2 separate regions of the Homo sapiens genome follow, and region 2 is linked to region 1. The links come from fine-mapping of genetic effects on gene expression. A gene starts in region 1. The other region holds a variant in brackets. All regions are shown on one strand. Distances are from middle to middle. Region 1 holds the start of NISCH (nischarin). Region 2 overlaps NISCH (nischarin).

Region 1 (8,366 bases):
CTGGGGAGGAGGGGGCTCACCGTCCTCGTCCACCTCATCGATCATCTCCTGCAGCTCCTCAGGGGTGGGGTTCTGGCCCAGCATCCTCATCACCTTGCCCAGCTCCTTGGTGCTGATGCAGCCATCCTCAGCGCCCAGCACGAAGATGTCGAAGGCTGCCTTGAACTCTGTGTTCAGGGGTTGGGGGGCACAGTAGTCAGGGCTCAGCAGCCAGGACCACGGAGGGCCAGAACCCTGGGGCCACCTGCCAACCTGCCCACCTCCCTCGGAGACCTCTCTGAGGGCAGAGCAAGAGGGACCAAGCCTCTGGTCTCTGGCCTGGGGTCCTCTTCTGATAAGGGGTCCCCATGCCAGCCTGGACCCGCTGGTCTCCCACATGTGTGATAGGGATTCTCACCATTTTTCTGCTCTTCTGTCAGCTGCTCTACCTAGAAAGGAAAGGGAATCTCAAGGCTCAGACTCAGGTATAGCTGCTGCTGAGGAAACCAACCCATTCCACAGGTGAGAAGGCTGGAGCTGGAGGAGGCAGGCTATTTCCAGGCCACAGAGTGGAGGTCTCAGTCCTCCCTCCCTGCCCCCAAAGCCCTGACGTGACCCAGCTGGCCTCACTGCGACTGGGCTCAGGGCCAGGGTGACAGGTGGGCACCCCCTTCAGGACCAAGGTGACCCTCAGTAACAATAGTCAGTGACCACTCAATGCCCTTTCGGCCCCTGATGAAACTCAAGCTGGGTGGCCCGAAGGACAGCTGTCCCTCAAGTTGGGATAATAAAACCAGTGTGGAGGCAGGCAAGCCACCCACGGTAACCTGACCAGGGTGGCCACTGGGCTATTTTTAACGAGGAACAAAGTTAAACCTGGTGATTGTTCTGGGGACTTTGGCATGCAGGGGGTGGGGCAGCGTTATCTGGCCCCCTGGCCTGCTAGTGCCGCCTCAGAAGCCAAAATTAGTCCCCAACTCCGCCAGGCCTTGTATGGGCACTGGGTGGAGGGCTGTCCCAACCCCGGCTCCATGGACTCCCACAGGATAAGCAGGCGTGCCCCCAGAGCTGGCTATAGCACTTCCCTGCCCAGGAGTGAGGGAGGCTGAGGGAGGGGTTCCCCTGGGGACAGCTGGCCATGCCAGGATGTCCTTGCTCTGGGGTTGGGGGAGGTCACCACCACCCAGGATAGAATAGCATCTGAAGACCCTCAGTGACCCAGGAGGTTGCAGGGGCTTGGGGTGACCACTCTCCAGCCCTCATTCCCTCGCTCTCACCCCTAGCTAAGCCACTGAGCCCTGAGCCTGCCAGGCATGATGGGAGCTGGGGCCCCAGTTCTCTGTTCCTTCTTCCTTGGTTCTCCCTCATGTCCAGAACTTCCCTGCCTCAAACTTCAAAGCCCCATCTCCAGCCCAGGACTCAGGCTCTACAGACCCCTCCTCTCACACCCTCCACCCTCCAAAGCATCTTCGGCCCGCCAAGGGGCTGGAGTGGGGTGGCAGATTTTGAGCATGTGAGAAGCAGAATGTGAGGGGCAGAAATGGGGGTTGGGGACAGGGAGACAGTAATGGGGACTCAGACAGCTCAGGAGGAAGAGATGAAAAGAGAAAGGCAAAAACGTCCAGAGACAAATGCAGAGACATGTGGCTGAGCGACAGTGCCACAGACCACAGACACTTGGAAACAGAGAGTGAGACACGATGCTGAAAGCTGCAACCTCCTCCACCACCCTTCAGACCCGGAACCCCCTACCCCTTCTGCATCCTCAAACACCAGAATCACTGTCCCTGTGAGGGCCTGGGTTGAAGGCACGTAGGCCTTCTCCTTGGTCCCCACCACTTCCCTGGGGCTACTAACCCCGCACTCTCAGCTGAGTGAGCCCCCAGTGGGCCTGCCCACCCCAGCCCTACCCAGCCCTGTCCCTCACCGCAGCCTTGTAGATGTCATCCATGCTGGCGGCTCACAGGACAGCTTGCTGGGGTTGCCAGCCGGCCCTTGACTTAAATAGCCCTGCCCCGCTGCATTCCTGGCCCAGCCCAGCCCAGCCCAGCCCACCCCTGCGTGTAGTATCCTCCAGCCCCTCCTCTGGTCCCAGTGATCTCAGGCTGGCCTGAGTCCCCACGTCCTCTGCCCAGGGCAGGGAGCAGACGAACGGCTACAAGGACCAGGTTTCTTTCCCTCCTGTCCCCCACACTCCCCAAAGGGACTCTCTGAAAAGGTTTCTGGAATGAATGAAAACATAAGCCCAGTGCAGGACAGGAGCTACAAAGTCGTGGGCCCCAGGCAAGGTGCAACACAACAGCTCAGGCTCCCATCCAACCAGGTTGGCGGGTTGCCATGACCTCCACTTTCCAGATAAGGAAACTGAGGCTCTGGAGGAGTGGTGACTTGCCCAAGATCTGACTGACTTGGTAACCCCCGCCTTTAACTAAACCTCTCTGGAATGGGGGTGCAATGTGCAAGGAGAGGCTAGGAGTGCAGGGCCCTGCCAAGAGAAGCCTCGAATGCCAAGCTCATAGTAAGATGCTGTGGAACTGGTGAAGGAGGAAGTGACTGACCCACCTTAGGACAGGGTGGCCAGGAGCCCTTCTGCCAGAGGAGCCTGTCCCAGACCTCCCATCTGCCCAGGGAGAAGTACCCACTTCGGGCTTAAGTCAGCTGCTCTCAGTTATTCAACAGCACCCCTATAGATGCCCCATCTGTGGCAGGCTCTTTCCCTCCTCACCCTCCAATTAGGTTACCACCTCCCTCTTCTAGGTCTCATCTTTCCCCGGTTTAGGATTCAGCACTGTAGTTCCTGGGTCCAGATCAACCTGTCTCCCTCGTTTTGAACTTTGGCAGGCCACCCCGTGGGGTTCTTGTGCTCAGTGGCAGCACACACCCCTCCATCCACCTACACCTTCCTTCGTACAGAGTTCGTATCAAGTTTATCCCTCTTGATAAACACGCTCCCTGCCTCGAGCACTACTGCGTGCTGGGCCGCGCATCAATCAACCCACTCAGTTGTCCAGAAGCCCCACTGACAAGAGATCTCCGAATCTCAGAGAGGTTCAGAACTGGCCCAGAATCACTCTCGCCCTGCTCCGGCGGTAAGCACAGGTCCTATTTTCCCCTCCAACCTGCCTTGCCCTAAAGAGAAAGAGCCCAACAGCCAGGTGAGGCACTATTATGGCCTCCTTTATCAGGAGGAGTAAACTGAGGCCAGGAAGAGCAGTGACTTGCTTCGTGTGGCCTGGGAGACTCGGGACCTTCTGTCCCCTCTTCCCGAGGACCCAGGGGCGATGCCCAGAGCTGTCACCACCCGGGGTCTCAGTTTCTAGCAGGCTGTGCAGGGTACCGCCGGCGGCGCCACGCAGGTAGATTACGCAAGCGAGCACCTCGCACGCGCGCCCTGAGTGGCCCCTGTCAGTCACGCGCGGGGGCGGGGCGAGGGCGCAGGAAGAAGGCGGGGCCAAGATGGCGGCGCAGCGCGCGGCGGGGGCGACGGGCGGCGGGGGCCGGGGGGCGGTGGGACGTTGACCCCGCCCCCTGCTGCTGCTAGTCTGCGCCGGGCGGCGGTGGCGGCGGAGACCCGAACATGGCGACCGCGCGCACCTTCGGGCCCGAGCGGGAAGCCGAGCCGGCCAAGGAAGCGCGCGTCGTGGGCTCGGAGCTTGTGGACACTTATACGGTGTGTTGGGGGCGCGGGCACCCGAAGCGGGGGTGGTGGCTGGAACCGGGAGTCCGACTCGGGGGCTTGGGGAGGGGTCCGGGATCTGCAGCCCCGAGGAGCGGGTAGAAGGGTCTGCGATTGCGAGGAGGGGGCTGGGACGGGGGATCTAGGAAAGGGATCTGGGCCCCGCAGGTCCGGGAGAAGGGTTGCTCGGGGCCCGGGGAGGCGGTTTGGAAAAGGGTACGCGATCAGAAAGGGAGGCTCGGGTTGGGGGCGGCATCTGGGGATAAAGGGGGCTTGGGGAGGGGGGTGTCTAGATGAGGCGGAACCCCTCTAGATCCTCTAGGACTGGAGGGGCCCCGGCCTGGAAGACCGTTACAGGGGTCCAGGAGGAAGGCGATGGGGAGAGGGTCTCTGATGGATGGAATCAGGGAAAAGGGTCAGGCTTCGCAGGCCTTGAAGAAAGAGAAGGCGTCAGGACCCTGATCTGGGGAGCCTGAGGTGGTGGTTGAGATTTTCTCTGAGAAGTGCAGGAGAGACCTGGGGAGCAGATGCCTTGGGGGTCGGGCGGAGACAAGACCGGAGGAGGGGTGGAGCCCATCTATGGAGAAATGGGGGTGGTCTCAGTGCTAAAGCGCAGGCCCTATAAGCCTTAGGAATCTTCGTGACTTTGGGCTGTGGGAGCGAGATGGGGCAACAAGCTGCCCACACACACTTCTAAGCTATGGGGGAGACAGAGGACAAATAGCGGGTAGTTCCCGACTTTGACGGGGTTGGATGCCAGGCCTGTGAGCCTGGTGGGCTGCCTGGCAAAAACCGGCCCTGGACTAGGCATAGAGCACCTCCCTGCCTCCTCCCCTTTGTTCCCGCAGGGTAGGGAGTGGGTGGGGGCCTTGGGCCTGCCTGCACCTCCCCTCCCTGGCCCTCATCCTAACCTTCCGCTCTGAGGGCCATTCTTCTGGCTCTTTTCTCCTTTCCTGAAGGCAAGGGGAAGGAATCAGGCAGGATGGGAAGAGGAGAGGGGTGGATCTTGAAGCAACAGGCCAGCCTGGAGAAATGGCTGCTCCTCAGGGCTGGAGGAGGCTTCAGCTCCATGCTGCAGAGAGGAGGGGGAAACTAGGTGCAGGAGGCGGGTGAGGTCTCTAAGCTGATGGCTGACTGGCCATCAGCTATGGGCACATTCAGCCAGAGGGCCATCTTCAAAAAGCTCACCCTATTCTGGACTGCGCCCCTCCTCTGCATGTATGTCGGGGGAGGTGGTGATCTAGTTTGGACCCTACCATCCTCTGTCTCCGGGTGTGCCGAGTTGGACATTATTAACACACCTACCTTTTGAACACTTGCCATGGGTCAGGCCCATGTACAAAGCATTTTACATGCATTGCCTTACTTGGTCCTTGATTCTAAGATGGAGGAACTAAGGCTCAGAGAGAACTTAGGCTCCAAGTTACTTATATAAGTGACACATAAGCTGCAGCCAGGAAATGGCAGAACCAGGTTTTTAACCCAGGCCTTCCTTAACCTCTAGGCCATATTGCCTCCTGATAGAGCTTAGTTGCTACCACTCCCTCCCCACATCAGCTGCTTGTGCCTTGATTCCTGGCTCAGCAGCAGAAATCACAGCCATGAACCAGTTGAAAGGGTTGGAAAATGACTTGCTTCCAGGAGGTAGTCAGGGCACCTGGAAAGAAGTACAACAGAGAAGATGCTCAGGCTAGAACTGGCCCTGCTCTGCCTCCCTTGGAAGAAATGGCCTTGCCTGCAGCTCCGGTTGGGTTTTGAGTTACCTAGAGGCAGGAGGTAAAAAACTAAAGAGGTGACTTGTGGTAATCACCTTTTTCATTCCTTACTGATGGATGGAGCCACATGCTTGTCTCATGTGCCTCCCAGCCCTAGTGCTTGGGCCATGGAGGAAGCTGAGAGGGGCCCTGCTGGTCAGCAAGGGTCAGGTGCAGAGGCTGGTGGGCAAGGGCAGCCTGACTTTGGCCTTGGGGTGGGTCTGAGTTGCAGAGAGAAAGACTGATAAAAGATAATTGGGAAAGATAATTGCAGCTTTTGCTGCTGGGGGAGGAGACTCCTTGTTGCTGGGCTCCCTTGCCACAAGGGCTGTTGGTTTCCCCTTTTAGGTTTACATCATCCAGGTCACTGATGGCAGCCATGAGTGGACAGTAAAGCACCGCTACAGCGACTTCCATGACCTGCATGAAAAGGTAACTGTTAAGAGCTGGGAGCACGTATCTCAGGGCTGGGGGACCCGTAGGCCAACTTTCCATTGTGCCACATATTAGTTTTAGGGCAAAACAGGTTCCATCTCTATAGTTCTTTAATAAACCACTTTGTTAATATAACTGCGTTCATTAATATAGCATGTAAATGCTAGCCTTCAGCTCTAGCATGAGCCACTCTGCAAGGAGCATATTTGAATTTCAGTTTTAATATTTCCAGTCCTAGCTTGGGTATGAGATGCTCAGACAGTTTCCTGGGAAGGGGACAGGTTTGAACTTGTTTGATCTAGCGATAGCTATTCCAAAGCCTTACTTTAATATCTGGCTGTGATTCCATCTCTTTTTTTTGCTTTTGGAGATGCTGTCTTTCTCTGGGTCATTTGCAGCATAACTGTTTTAAAGACACACCGCTGCCCTGATTGGTTTTTACTCTGGCTTGGAAAAGATGGCAATTTTAGGGGCAAAAGGTGTTACTTTTCTGAATGTCTCTAAAGTCTCCAGATGGAATTCCTTGTCTAGAATTGTATTGGTATTTCTAATGCTAATTGGATTTAAAGAGGCCAAATCCCAGGTGCACTAGTTTGGTCACTGATTTTGGTACTACTGCAGGGAGGGGCTGTGCAAGTGCTGACAAGCGCCTGCCCTCAAGCTTCTTGCCTTGGTCTTACATAGGCACAGAGCCTCTTAGTCTGTGGTTGATGTGCTTATGTTTTTTTACAGCTCGTTGCAGAGAGAAAGATTGATAAAAATCTGCTTCCGCCCAAAAAGATAATTGGGAAAAACTCAAGAAGCTTGGTGGAGAAGAGGGAGAAGGATCTGGAGGTCTACCTCCAGAAGCTCCTGGCTGCCTTCCCTGGCGTGACCCCCAGAGTACTGGCCCACTTCTTGCATTTTCACTTCTATGTAAGTTCCTCATCGGGTTTTCACCTGTGCCTGCAAACCCACAACTGCCAAACTTGAGGCAGCAAACCAGGGGAGACCTCAGCTTTGAGGTGGGCTGGGGTTTGACCCTAGGTTAGAAGATGGAGGAACGTCACCCTGGTTAGGAATGCATTGTGGCCAGAAGCATGTTAGTTGACAGATTTGCCGTAAATTAGACTAAATGTGGCCACAGAGATGCTTTCCTCCACCACAAGGCATTTTGTTTAGCAAAAATGGCCTGTGGGTGTTTAAGCTAGGTTTCCATCCAGATGGATGAGGCTGGATTAGAAATAGCTGACACCTGGGATAGACTATTGTTGAGTTGTTGGTGCATAGCCCAAAACTAATTAAGGGATTAGTCTGTGATGGTGGAATATCACCATCTTGGGGCGTGTCATCAGGGTCCGCGCTGCCAGGGTGCTAAGGTTGAGGGTGGACACCTTCCTGTGATGGGAGAGTGTGTCATAGAACAGCTCTGTACTCCGTCCTTGAAAGAGGAACAACTTTCATAGGTTGCCGGTGACAGAATGCGTTGTCAGACTTTAAGAAGGGCACTTAGGCAGTGTGAAACCACAATATTTGTGCTTTTGAGACGGAGTCTTGCTCTGTCACCTAGGCTGGAGTGCAGTGGTGCGATCTCGGCTCACTACAACCTCCGCCTCTTGGGTTCAAGCAATTCTCCTGCCTCAGCCTCCCGAGTAGCTGGGACTACAGACTTGCACCACCACACCCAGCTAATTTTTGTATTTTTAGTAGAGATGGGGTTTCACCATGTTGGCCAGACTGGTCTGGAACTCCTGACCTCAAGTGATCTGCCTGCCTCAGCCTCCCAAAGTGCTGGGATTACAGGCGTGTGCCACCGCACCTGGCCAAAACCACAATATTAAATAGCAGTTCTATTTATGAGAATTTCTTCTAAGGAAAAATCAGGCAGCCGCAAAAAGGATATATGAACAAAGGTAGTCATTCCAGGATTGTAACAAAATAGTAAGGACAACCCTAAAGTCTAGTAGAAGAGGTTAAAAAAAAAAAATCAGGCCAGGTGCAGTGGCTCATGCCTGTAATCCCAGCACTTTGAGAGGCTGAGGTGGGCAGATCACTTGAGGTCAGGAGTTCAAGACCATCCTGGCTAACATGGTGAAACCCTGTCTCTACTAAGAATACAAAAATTAGCTGGGTATGGTGGCAGATGCCTGTAATCCCAGCTATTTGGGAGGCTGAGGCAGGAGAATCGCTTGAACCCAAGAAGCAGAGGTTGCAGTAAGTCGAGATCATGTCACTGCACTCCAGCCTGGGCAACAGAGTGAGAGTAAGACTTCATCTCAAAAAAAAAAAAAAAAAAAAAAAAAATCAAAGGGTACAGCCAGGCTGAGCACAGTGGCTCATGCCTGTGATCCCAGCTCTTTGGGAAAATAAAACAAAAAAGAAATCTGCAGCTCCACCATCATTATCCCAGCAGCACACCAGTCTTCCCAGCAGACACTGTCTCAAAAAAAATGCAACTTTCTTAAGCAGTATCCAACTGTATGGCTGTACTATTTTTTTTTTTTTTTTTTTGAGACAGGGTCTCACTCCATTGCTCAGGCTGG
Region 2 (11,852 bases), 26 kb after region 1:
TGTAATCCCAGCACTTTGGGAGGCTGAGGTGGGTGGATCACCTGAAGTCAGGAGTTTGAGACCAGCCTTGCCAACATGGTGAAGCCCCCATCTCTATTAAAAATGCAAAAATTAGCCAGGCATGGTGGTACACACCTCTAGTCCCAGCTACTGGGGAGGCTAAGACAGAAGGATGGCTTGAGCCTGCGAGGCAGAGGTGGCAGTGAACTGAGATTGCGCCACTGCACTCCAGCCTGGGTGACAGAGCGAGACTCCATCTCAAAAAAGAGAAAAGGCTAGAAAAGGCATCACCAGGTCACCAGGGCAAAGGCCCTTTGGGCTTGAAAAGCATTGCTCCTAAAGCAGGGCCAGGACTTAATTCTAAGTGGCTGTTATGTGGTAAATTGTTCAGCTTTGAACGATTTCACAATCGTTTAAAGACATAGGAACCAAAGGCATGCTTTAATGCAAGTTTACTTCCACATGCTAAATATGCTCCAGCCCTTCCTTAAATTCTGCAACGACTGTGTTCCCAGTGAGTGTTGCGTGAGGGCCCGAGTGTGGTGCTCCACACAGATGTTTTTATGCAGGAAGTCCTTGTTCCTGAAGCCTCAGAATTTGATGAGTGGGAGCCTGAAGGCACAACCCTAGAAGGCCCTGTGACTGCCGTCATCCCCACTTGGCAGGCATTGACCACGCTTGACCTGAGCCACAACAGCGTCTCCGAGATCGACGAGTCTGTGGTATGCTCTCAGCAGCAGGTGCCAGGGGTTTCTCTGGCCCCACCAAACCCTGAGTTTGAGTATTTAACTCAGCTTTTTTAGGAAGGACCACGGAAAACCTATATCTAGTGCTCTGTGCATTGCCTGCCATTTTAAGTTAATTACAAAATGGGGGCTGGGCGTGGTGGGTCACACCTGTAATCCCAGCACTTTGGGAGGCCGAGGCGGGAGGATCACTTGAGGTCAGGAGTTCGAGACCAGCCTGACCAATGTGGTGAAACCCCATCTCTACTAAAAATACAAAAATTAGCTGGGTGTGGTGGTGCACACCTGTAATCCCAGCTACTTTGGGAGGCTTAGGCAGGAGAATCGCTTGAACCCGGGAGGCGGATGTTGCAGTGAGCTGAGATAGGGCCACTGCATTCCAGCCTGGGCGACAGAGTGAGACTCCGTCTCAAAAGAAGAAAAAAAAATGGGATCATTTAAAATTGGTGAGGTAGTACTTAGAACCAAATAAAACATAATAATTTCATGTAAATTTGGTAAACTATAACACACTAAATGATGACATTTGCTCCAAAGAGTGGAGCAGAAAAATCACTCCTTAGATGACAGATGTGCCCATGAAAGAATGACACCCAGAGGGCATTTGGGCAGTAAGAGTGTCGTTCCCGTGTTTGCGCTGCTCAGGGAGTGTGGGCAGGGTTGAAGAAGAACAGACTCTCTTCTCTGTCTGGGACCTTGCTGTGTGTCATTTTCACAAGCCAAGTGTTCCATGAAAACTGAGTAGTGCCCAGCACTGGGGGCCCTGTGTGTGCCTTTGGATGTGCTACTGGCTGGGCAGCGGGAGATGTCCCACCAGTGGTCCTGCAGGGACGGCCCGTGGGAGTCCATGGTCGGGAGGAAGCGTCCTGGGGTGCCCGTCCACTGTGTCGGGGACCGTGTTTGGGGTCCAGCCCCCTACAGTAACATCGGGTGTTCTTTTCTTTCACAAGAAACTGATCCCAAAGATTGAGTTCCTGGACCTGAGTCACAATGGATTGCTGGTTGTGGACAATCTGCAGGTAGTGCCTTTGGAGACCAGTGCTGCCCGCACACACTCCCAAGGCCCCGCCCTGAGATTTCAGGAGACTGACGCAGCCTTGGGAATTGGCCAGGGGTTGTAAGGGCAGGGGTTGCTGTCTTCGCTTTAGGATCCCAGCAATGCACTGAGTGATTGTTGCTCTAGTTCCAAAGAATTAGGAAGCATGAGTAAATACAAACCAGGCATGATGATGCACCTCCGTCCTGAAGGTGGACAGCCATGTTTTCAACGCCCACCCCAACTGTCTGCAGGGGTGCCACTGTGCTGTGGCATGTGCGGCAGAGAAGAGGGACTTCCCTTCCTAAAATAACTGTCAGAGTGACTTGCAGAACTGGGTAGTTTGGGTTGGAAGGCCCATCCTGCCATTAGTGTCAGGCCCCTATCTTTGGAGACTTGACCTGAGCCACTTTACGCTGTTCTCCACGCCGCTGCAGCACCTGTATAACCTTGTGCATCTGGACCTGTCCTACAACAAGCTCTCCTCCTTGGAAGGGCTTCACACCAAGCTGGGGAACATCAAGACCTTAAACCTGGCAGGCAACCTCCTAGAGAGTCTGAGTGGCCTGCACAAGCTCTACTCACTGGTCAACCTGGATCTCCGGGACAACAGGATCGAACAGGTGAGCCCAAGGACCTCACAGTTTTGGGATTTCTGTGCCTTGGTGTGTATCATGTTAAAGAAGAATGTTAAGATTCCTTTCATTTAAAAGAGACCATGAAACGTGTTGGCGTGTTGCTGAAGTGTTAAGAGAAGGGACCAAAGGGGATGGAACTCATACCTTGCAGATGGAGGAGGTCCGGAGCATAGGCAGCCTCCCGTGTCTGGAGCACGTGTCTCTGCTGAACAACCCTCTGAGCATCATCCCCGACTACCGGACCAAGGTGCTGGCTCAGTTCGGAGAGAGGGCCTCAGAGGTGAGCCCCAGCACAGTCAGAAGAGCCCAGGGAGACCTTCGGGATGCAGTCAAGTCTGCATGGGCGGTAGGGGGATATATGTCCATTGTTCTACCCTTGCCTGCTTCAGAAAGAGGTCCTGTCCCTTAGGGGCTTTTCAGTTCTGGGAAGTCCACTATCTCCCCAGGAAAAAGCTCCCTTGCATCTCCTGCCCCTACTGTCTGGGATAACATTGTTTATTCTAGGAAAGGGTCAGAAATAAGATCCTTAAAATATTCATATCTCCTGGACAACCTGTGGCCATAGTGCCTGACTGTAAACCCAAAGGGTTTGCCTTTGCCAGTGTAGCCCAGCCTGGTGTCTGCTGCCCCTCGCGGTGTCTGTGCACCTGCCACGATGCTGACCAGACACCCTTAACCAGGTTCACCCATCGCCTGGGCCTGGAGCAGTCCCCGTGATGCTCTGATTGGTCCTTGGACCTTCTGTTCTCCCAAAATCCCAGGTCAGAAAATACCTGGAAGTCTATTTGTGTCCCACCTCCCTCTTTGTGGCCGCAAGTGCCCCTTCCTCCACACAGTCACAAGACCATGAGATGCCATCTCCTCCCCTCCTGGGCTGCAGACTTTGGGAAGCTCCCAGGCCACAGAGTGTCAGCTCCTGTCCAGGCCCTTGGGACCTTCCCTCATTCAACCACCCTACCCAACCCCCCACTGCCTGCCAGCCACCACTCCCTCCCACATTTGCAGGCGGGGGCCCTGCCCTCTCCTGCCGCTGGTTCCCCTACCCAGGAGGCTCTCCCATCGCTCTTTTGAGAGTCTGCCTCCCACCTCTAACTGGGGGCTTAGTTCAAGTTGCCCCCTTACCCTAGTCCCAGCTGCCCAAGAGCTTGCTGCCTCCTGTTCTTGGTGAGGGACTCCAGAGACAGATGTGAGACCTCCCTGGACCCCTCCAAGGCATTCCCAGGTCACTTCCATGAGTAGTGAAGAGCCGCCTCTGAGCAGGCTGAGCCTCCCTCAGCCTATGGTGTCCTCACGTGGCCTGGCCCACAGCAGGTGCTCACGCCTCCTCCTCAGCAGAGCCCTACCATCCTCCTGCCATGCTCACCAGTCCCCATGCTGATAGCCATCACCAGTCCCCATGCTGATAGCCATCACCAGTCCCCATGCTGATAGCCACTTTCTGGATGCTCTAGGTCTGTCTGGATGACACAGTGACCACAGAGAAGGAGCTGGACACTGTGGAAGTGCTGAAAGCAATTCAGAAAGCCAAGGAGGTCAAGTCCAAACTGAGCAACCCAGAGAAGAAGGTGGGTTTGTGTGGCAGGTGGGAGGGCAGTGGTGCAGAGCCAGCCGGGATAGGAGCCAGTTTGGGGGGCTTGGGCCATGGGACTGCTCAGGGCTGCCGAGTCCCAGCTGCGCCCCTCCCTGGCTGCATGACCTCGGGCAAGTCGCGGCCTCTCTGTTCTCTGTGGGGTGGGGACAGTGGTAGTTCCTGCTCTAAGGATATGATGAGACCATCTTTACCACCCAGTTGGTGGGAACCGTTGCGCTCCCTCCTCACACCCCTGGCCTTGGGGAGCTCTGTGCTTCCTCTTCTCTCCCGGGCTGACTCAAGCACTCGTCCTCAGGGTGGTGAAGACTCCCGGCTCTCAGCTGCCCCCTGCATCAGACCCAGCAGCTCCCCTCCCACTGTGGCTCCCGCATCTGCCTCCCTGCCCCAGCCCATCCTCTCTAACCAAGGTAATCGTGTATGTATCTTGCTTCTAGTGGAGCCACACAGCCCTGCCTGGGCCCCCTGGCTGGGCTGGGGTTGGGGGAGAGGTGCCAGCACCTGCTTCCAACAGGGTCAGACACAGGGAGGGCAGTGCCTTCTGCAGGCTGGTCCTCGCGGGGGGACACATGGCAGGGGTGCCTGGCCTGATGCCAGCTGTTGCTTGCTTGGTGAGGACTCCCAATTGCTCTGATGCCCACATCCAGCTCCTCTAGGAGACCGCAGGGTGTCTGACAGGCCCTGAGGCTGCCCTCTGAACAGGCTCGGGGCTGTTGGCTCATGGGACCCATTCCCTCACCGGCAGCACAAGCAGGTTGGCTCCTGGTTACAGGAAGCCGGGCTTGTGACTTTACTGTCTGGAGCCCGAATCCCTGTGCAGGGAAAAGCTTGCTTTTATCACTGCCTCATCTCTGTGGGGTGACCCAGCCCCAGAACACCATGTTTGTGGGGCCAAGATGGGCCATCTCTGTCCCTGTGGACCCATGGAAGACCAGGCCCATTCGTCTGCCCACTATCTTAGCGTTTTCAAAGGGCTTTCACCTCTGAACCCAGGCATCCTCGGAGATGAGTGAGTGAAGCAGGTCTCATGAGCGTGTCTGCTGGCCCGGCCCCCACGGAAGAGGGGAGGGTGTGCCGTCCCGAGTGGAGCCGAGGCTCGGGACACGCAGGAAAGGACGCCGCCTGCCCGGGCTCCTGGAGACGCAGAACTTGGTGTGAGGTCTTGGGAAAACAGTTCAACCCGATGTTTTAAGAGCCAGAAAAACATTCCCACCCCTTGACCTGGTAACCCCACTGGTGGGGATTTTCTCTTAGAGGGATAAGATACCGGGAAGGGGAGGTGAAATGCTCACCACTGCCAAAACACGGGCTGCAACTGCAACATCGGAGGATGAGAGGGAGAGTCGGCTGTGGTGCAGAATGCTCAGCAGCCCTCCCAGCAGGGACAGGAAGACTGGGCAGGAAGAGGGGAGAAGCATTCAAGTTAAGGCAAAAGGCCCAACGCAGAGCAGCACACTGAGGTCACACCTGTGAGATGTGGAAGAGAATTCCTGAGCGTGGAGCGATGGGGTTAGGTGCCAGGATGATTGCCCATTTTGCTTCTGTCAGACTCTTGACTAAGGATTTCTGGTTGCATTTTATTACATAAAAGCCAGGGAGGTTATATCACGGTGAGAAAGCTTCCCTGACGCTGCCTCCTGTAGCGCAGCCAAGCGAGCCTGTGGAGGTACCATATGACTGTAGGCCTCTGGGGACAGGGAGCTGCATCTGCTTCTCAAGGCCAGGGACACAGCCATTTCTGCCAGCATCTGTTGATCAGTGAGTGAGTGAGTGGGCAGGTAGAGCAGGAGCCAGTGAAGAGCAGGCCCTGGATGGGTGGGGATGCACCATGTCCCCAGGCTGCAGCTGCAGGCAGCCCCCCACATTGTCGGAGAAGCCTCTGCACCAGCTCAGCCCCCTCCTCACTCCCCTTGTGCCCTGGGGACACTCTGCAGAGGGGCACTCTGCAGTCTGTCCCCGCCATCGCTGGACTTCTGGACATGGCCTCCAGATTTGCACCTCTTAAATAAAACTGCAGTGGATGTCTTTGTGTGCACCTCTCTTTCCTTTTGGTGAGAAACAGCAAAGATCGGACCCCTAAGGACTCTCCTGATGTCTCCGCTCTATCCGCTGAGTGCCCTTTCTGACCACTTGTTTGTACAGGCCACGGTCCAGGACGGGAGCAGATAGACTGTCCCTGTCCCTGTCCACATTTCCTTGGTCCAAACAGGGCTTGTGGGAGGTAGTGGCAAAAGGTGTTGGTCTTTTTCTCACTGATTTGGAGGCCTCCCCGTGTGTTTTTTCAGCCGCGTGTTCCTGGGTCTTGCCTGGATGGACAGGGTTTTTTAGCGCGTGGGAGCAGCTTTGCTGACCCATGCCTGTTGCTTCCAGCCTGATTCCCGAGAAGGGAGC[C/G]TGCTTGCGAAGGAACTGGCACTCGGGCCTGCCTGAAGGGGGCGCTGTCCAGACAACACCCAGCCTCCCGTCGTGGCAGGCGCTGTCGGAGCCATGGATGATTGTGACCAATAGGGGTGGTCGCCAGAGTTGATTGTCCAGCCAGGCCCAGGGGCTGAGAGGAGGCTGTGTGGAGAGGTGGTTAGGAGCCAGGGCTCGGTCAGCTGAGTTCGCATGCCAGCTTCCTAGCTGTGGGACCTCAAGCAACTTGTAGCCCCTCTGAAGCTGTTTTCTCAACTGTGAAGTGGACGCACCCTACTTCATTGATTCTAAGAGGCACGCATTTCCACCTTGTGACTTCTCTGAAACTGAGGTGCGTCTTTCAGTCAGTGGCGTCTCATAGTCGCTGTCAGCCAGCTGGTATTCGAGATGGAGTCGTGGAAAACCCGTGGACACCTTCCGCTAGGACCAAGATGGCGCCACCTGCCGCATCTTAGATTTGATGAAATGTGGTAAATAACGAGAGGCATGCATGAGCGAATGCTGGGGAGGCGCTTGGCACTACCCAGAGCTCCACAGAGGTGGTCGATGAGGGCTGCCCTTTCCCACATCCTTAGTAGGGGGTTCAAGATGACCCAGACTGTGCCCCTGGGGAGCTTGGAGCCATGCGGGAGGATGAGCCATGTGCTGGAGGAGAACAGGGTAGGATGGTGTGGGGCTTTTGTAGACTGTCTAGAGCAGAGAAGGTCTGCAGTGGAGGTGGTGTCTGAGGTGAATCTCGAAGGTGAATAGGAGTTGAACGTTAGCAGGCAGAGGGTGGATTGCAGGAGAGCAGCGGCCTGGGCAGGTGCCCAGCGTGGCCCATCAGGGTGCTTCATGCATGGCTGTGTGCTTGCCATCCTTCCTGCCTGCCTACCCCCTGCTGCTTCGCTTCGTGGGGGCGTTTGAGCTTGGGCCCACCTGCCTGCCTCGCTTGTGGGCAGAGGACCCAGGCTGTGTGAGTTGTCCTGTCCCGGGGAGCAGCTGAGCTGGTCGGGGGTCTCGACCTGTGGGGCTCAGAGGACTCGGGGTCATTTCACTGGGCTGTGGCGATGCTGGGCTGTGGAGGTAGGCCTAGGGCTCCTGTAGGCCTCAGTGAGACTGGCGGCCGATGCCCAGTGTTCACCCTGCTGGCGGCAGTCAGGAACATGTTCACAAAGGCTTTACCTTCAAGTGGTCTAGAGGTGATCTGAGGTGGAGTAACAGGTCCAGATAGGCTACGTTCATAAAACAGCTTCAGCGGGGTTTAGGAACACTGTGCATTTACGGGACGCAGTGGGTCAGAGTGCTGCTGTCCGTGGGAGGTGGCCCCAGGGCAGGTCAGTGGGCACGTCCTGTGGTAAGTGGGACTGTGGATGTGGGCTCAGGCTGGACTCAGCAGCCCTGCTGGATACCAAGGCCTGCAAGGGCTGGCCCCCTGGTGAATTGTCCCGTGCCCTGTGTATCTATGAGTCCTGCAGAGATGACAAATCAGGGGACGGGGTCATGTCTAGTCACCGTCTGGGAAAATGCTCCAGGAGTGAACACATTTCAGGCTCTTGATGGATGTACCTCCAAACTCTTCTCTGGATGGGTGGGCCAGCTTGCATGCCTGTGCCGGCCTCTGCCCAGCGAGGTCAGGGCCAGGCCACACAGTCAGTCTGACTTTGGCAGAAGTTGAGAGGCAACACTTGTCTCTTGTTTCAGCTTGCCTTTCTTTGTGTACTTCTGAGAGCGAGCATTCTTTTCATGTTCTATCCGCTGGCCGTTCTTCTGCGGAATGTCTGTTCACGTCCTTTGCAGTCTGTTAATGAGGTTTCCAACCTTCCCTCATTTTTGTAATCTGTAAGAACTTTTTACAGACTAGCGATATAAATCCTTGTCAAATATTGCAAACACTTTTCTCATTTCATCTGGTTTTAATCTATCCTGGTTTTTAAAAAATGTGTCTGTGGAAGTTTAATTTTTATGTAGTCACATCTCAGTTTTTTTCCATTGCATTTATTCTCAGAATGCTTCTCCCTGCCCTGAGATTAGATAAGCAGTCATTTGTTCTTTCTTGAGTTATTTTGAGATTTCAGTTTTAACATTTTCTTCTATAATCCATGTGGCTGGGTTTTGGGATCTGGCTAACCCCCGCCATGCCAGTAGCCTGAGGGGCCCAGCCCCACTTGTTGAACAGCCGCTCTCCCCGCCCCACCCACCCTGCCTGCCTGCCCACCCGCCCTGGTCTCTCCAGGAATCATGTTCGTTCAGGAGGAGGCCCTGGCCAGCAGCCTCTCGTCCACTGACAGTCTGACTCCCGAGCACCAGCCCATTGCCCAGGGATGTTCTGATTCCTTGGAGTCCATCCCTGCGGGACAGGTAATGCCCTCTTCCCGCTTCTGGGGACCATACATCTGTGGGTGGACTCTTCTGCTTGGGGTTGTGTGCAGTAGGAAGTGGCCTAGCTGGAGCTGAGGCAGATGCTTCCAGGGTTTGGCGTCCTCTGCTTTGTGCCACGGTCTTTCTCTTGGACCTGTCTCTGGTTGAGTGTCTTCCTGACAAACACAGTGGTTAAGGGTTTATTTTCAGCCTCCCTCCTTCCCTTCCCCACCCACCTTGGTTGATGGGAACAGGCAGTTCTCTGTCACTGGGCCCAGGGCACGAGGGGGGCAGGTGGAGAGGGTGGCCCTTGACCCTGTGAGCAGGCTTCCCTGGGGAAGGCATTTCAAAAGACCCTCGTGCAGGGGCTTGTTTGGGTTTCTTCTCTGTTTCCTGGCACCCCTGGAGCCACTCGGCGCCTTTCCGCATGTCACCCTGGTGGTCTGGGAAACAGTCTCACTCTGGCGCCTCCTCTGTGGTTGTTACTGAGAGTTCTGGGGCCCCTTCCTTTGTCCTGAGGAAAGACAGGAGGAAAGCAAGGGTGCTTGCTGTGTGCTTCGCAAATGTGCTTGGTGCCTGGGCCTCCCTCCAGCCCCATCTCTGCAGCAGCACAAGGTTATGGCCTTGTGACACTGGGACAGTTTGCAGAGTCCTTGTCTGTCCTCAGTACTCCACAGTATTCTGCCATCACCCTTTCCAGGGTCACACAGCAAGAGATTCCCAAGCCCTAGGTATTCCCCAGTGCACAGAGACCATTGGGAGGGACTTGCCAGGGCTGTGTCCACTGCTGGCCAGTTAGGGTCGGACCAAATTTGTAGACTGTCTACCTGGACCCTTGCGTGGCACAAGGAGCAGTCAGATGCTGGATCCCTGGAGAGTGGCGAGAGGCTCTGGCCCTAGGTTGCGAGTGGGAATCCCAGCCCTGCTGTGTGCTGGTGGGATAACCAAGTGGGTCTCTGCCCTTGGGTCCCAGAGTGGGCCCCAGGGTCCCAGAGTGGGCTCCAGGGTACAGCGTGGGGATGGGGAGCCTCCTCAGGGCGGTGATGGAGGGCAGAATGCCCAGCTCAGGGTCTGGCAACCAGTAAATGGCTGGGGCTGGCTGCAGTAGGTGGGGACTGACTGTGTTTCTTTCTCCATCAGGCAGCTTCCGATGATTTAAGGGACGTGCCAGGAGCTGTTGGTGGTGCAAGGTAAGGAAGAGGTTGGAAAGGGACCTGGGCCTGGCCACACAGCCTTATGCACACACACTGCTGTGGGCCAGGGGTGGCCAGTCAGGTTTTTTTAAAAATCCGTTCACAGAAGGCCTATAGAACTATTTCTTCCTCTAAAGAGACACAGATGAGATGGACTTTTCAATCTGTTTCCAAATTCTAATACCTAAACTCTGCTCAGCACATGTTGCCCTACACCAGGGGTTGGCAAATCAAGGCCTGTGTGTGGCCCACAGCCTGGGAGCTAAGAATGACAGTTACATTCTTTTTTCTTTTTTTGAGACTGAGTCTCGCTCTGTCGCCCAGGCTGGAGTGCAGTGGCGTGTTCTTGGCTCACTGCAACCCCCGCCTCCCAGATTAATGCAATTTTCCTGTCTCAGCCTCAGCCTTCTGAGTAGCCCGGACCACAGGCGCACGCCACCACGCCCAACTAATTTTTTATATTTTTAGTAGAGACAGAGATTCACCATGTTGCCTAGCTGGTCTCGAACTCCTGAACTCCAGTGATCCACCAACCTCGGCCTCCTAAAGTACTGGAATTACAGGCATGAGCCACCGCGCCTGGCTAGAATAACAGTTACTTTTTTTTTCTTTGAGACTGAGTCTTGCTTTGTCACCCAGGCTGGAGTGCAGTGGCCCGATCTCAGCTCGCTGCAACCTCCGCCTCCCGGGTTCAAGCGATTCTTCTGCCTCAGCCACCCAAGGTGCCCGCCACCACACCTGGCTAATTTTTCTGTTTTTAGTAGGGACAGGATTTCGCCATGTTGGACAGTTACATTCTTAAAGGGCTGCTGAAGATCGTATGGACATGGTAGCCCATAAATCCCAAAATGTGTACTCTGACCCTTTACAGAAGCTTACTAACTCCCACTCTACATGTGAGGGCTGCGGTGGCCAAGAAGAGCTGGAATTTAAGTGTGAAGGTCCTAAGACCTGCCCCAGCCCACTTCCCTGCCCCGGAGGCCACCAGGGGTGACAAGTAGATTCATGCCCTGGAGTGTTCCTTCTCTCCGGGGCTTATGGCAGCAACTGAATGACTTAGAAGTCCATGGGAGTGCTTCTGTTGTGGGAACTCGTGTGGTCTGGGCATAGCTGTGCCAGGCACCTATGGTCCAAGCCCCTAGAAGCATAGACTCTGACCAAACTGGCGACCCAGCCTTCCAGCAGGCAGCACTGGCTCCCACCAGGGCCCTCATCCTGGGAACTGACTTGGCCATGTGGGAGGCTTGGGAGACCCATGGGTTGGTTTCTCAGGGTCAGGGTGTAGCAGTGGGCTCCAGATGTGGCAGGTGGGAGGTGGGAGGGGCCCCTCCCAGCATGCCACTGACCTGGCCTCTCCCTGCACAGCCCAGAACATGCCGAGCCGGAGGTCCAGGTGGTGCCGGGGTCTGGCCAGATCATCTTCCTGCCCTTCACCTGCATTGGCTACACGGCCACCAATCAGGACTTCATCCAGCGCCTGAGCACACTGATCCGGCAGGCCATCGAGCGGCAGCTGCCTGCCTGGATCGAGGCTGCCAACCAGCGGGAGGAGGGCCAGGGTGAACAGGGCGAGGAGGAGGATGAGGAGGAGGAAGAAGAGGAGGACGTGGCTGAGAACCGCTACTTTGAAATGGGGCCCCCAGACGTGGAGGAGGAGGAGGGAGGAGGCCAGGGGGAGGAAGAGGAGGAGGAAGAGGAGGATGAAGAGGCCGAGGAGGAGCGCCTGGCTCTGGAATGGGCCCTGGGCGCGGACGAGGACTTCCTGCTGGAGCACATCCGCATCCTCAAGGTGCTGTGGTGCTTCCTGATCCATGTGCAGGGCAGTATCCGCCAGTTCGCCGCCTGCCTTGTGCTCACCGACTTCGGCATCGCAGTCTTCGAGATCCCGCACCAGGAGTC

What was found. PIP is the estimated chance that this variant, and not a neighbour inherited with it, causes the effect.
Region 2: its variant is the best candidate, but not a certain one, in a credible set for the expression of NISCH in ileum (GTEx, PIP 0.90).

What each region holds. Positions count from the first base shown.
Region 1 is chr3:52,452,086-52,460,451 of GRCh38, forward strand. It overlaps NISCH (nischarin), which reads left to right and starts at 3,519. Exons shown (of 21, transcript NM_007184.4): 1 at 3,519-3,649; 2 at 5,758-5,841; 3 at 6,577-6,759. The coding sequence starts at 3,557. It overlaps TNNC1 (troponin C1, slow skeletal and cardiac type), which reads right to left and starts at 1,956. Exons shown (of 6, transcript NM_003280.3): 1 at 1,907-1,956; 2 at 398-428; 3 at 21-167. The coding sequence starts at 1,930. RefSeq lists enhancers at 1-818, 4,498-5,173 and a silencer at 3,444-3,673.
Region 2 is chr3:52,475,878-52,487,729 of GRCh38, forward strand. It overlaps NISCH (nischarin), which reads left to right. Exons shown (of 21, transcript NM_007184.4): 8 at 570-722; 9 at 1,697-1,765; 10 at 2,220-2,405; 11 at 2,572-2,700; 12 at 3,872-3,985; 13 at 4,307-4,418; 14 at 8,636-8,760; 15 at 9,901-9,950; 16 at 11,319-11,852. Among named protein-coding and RNA genes, the nearest start is that of STAB1, 14 kb to the right of the region's middle. The variant C/G (reference allele first, on the strand shown) is at 6,400.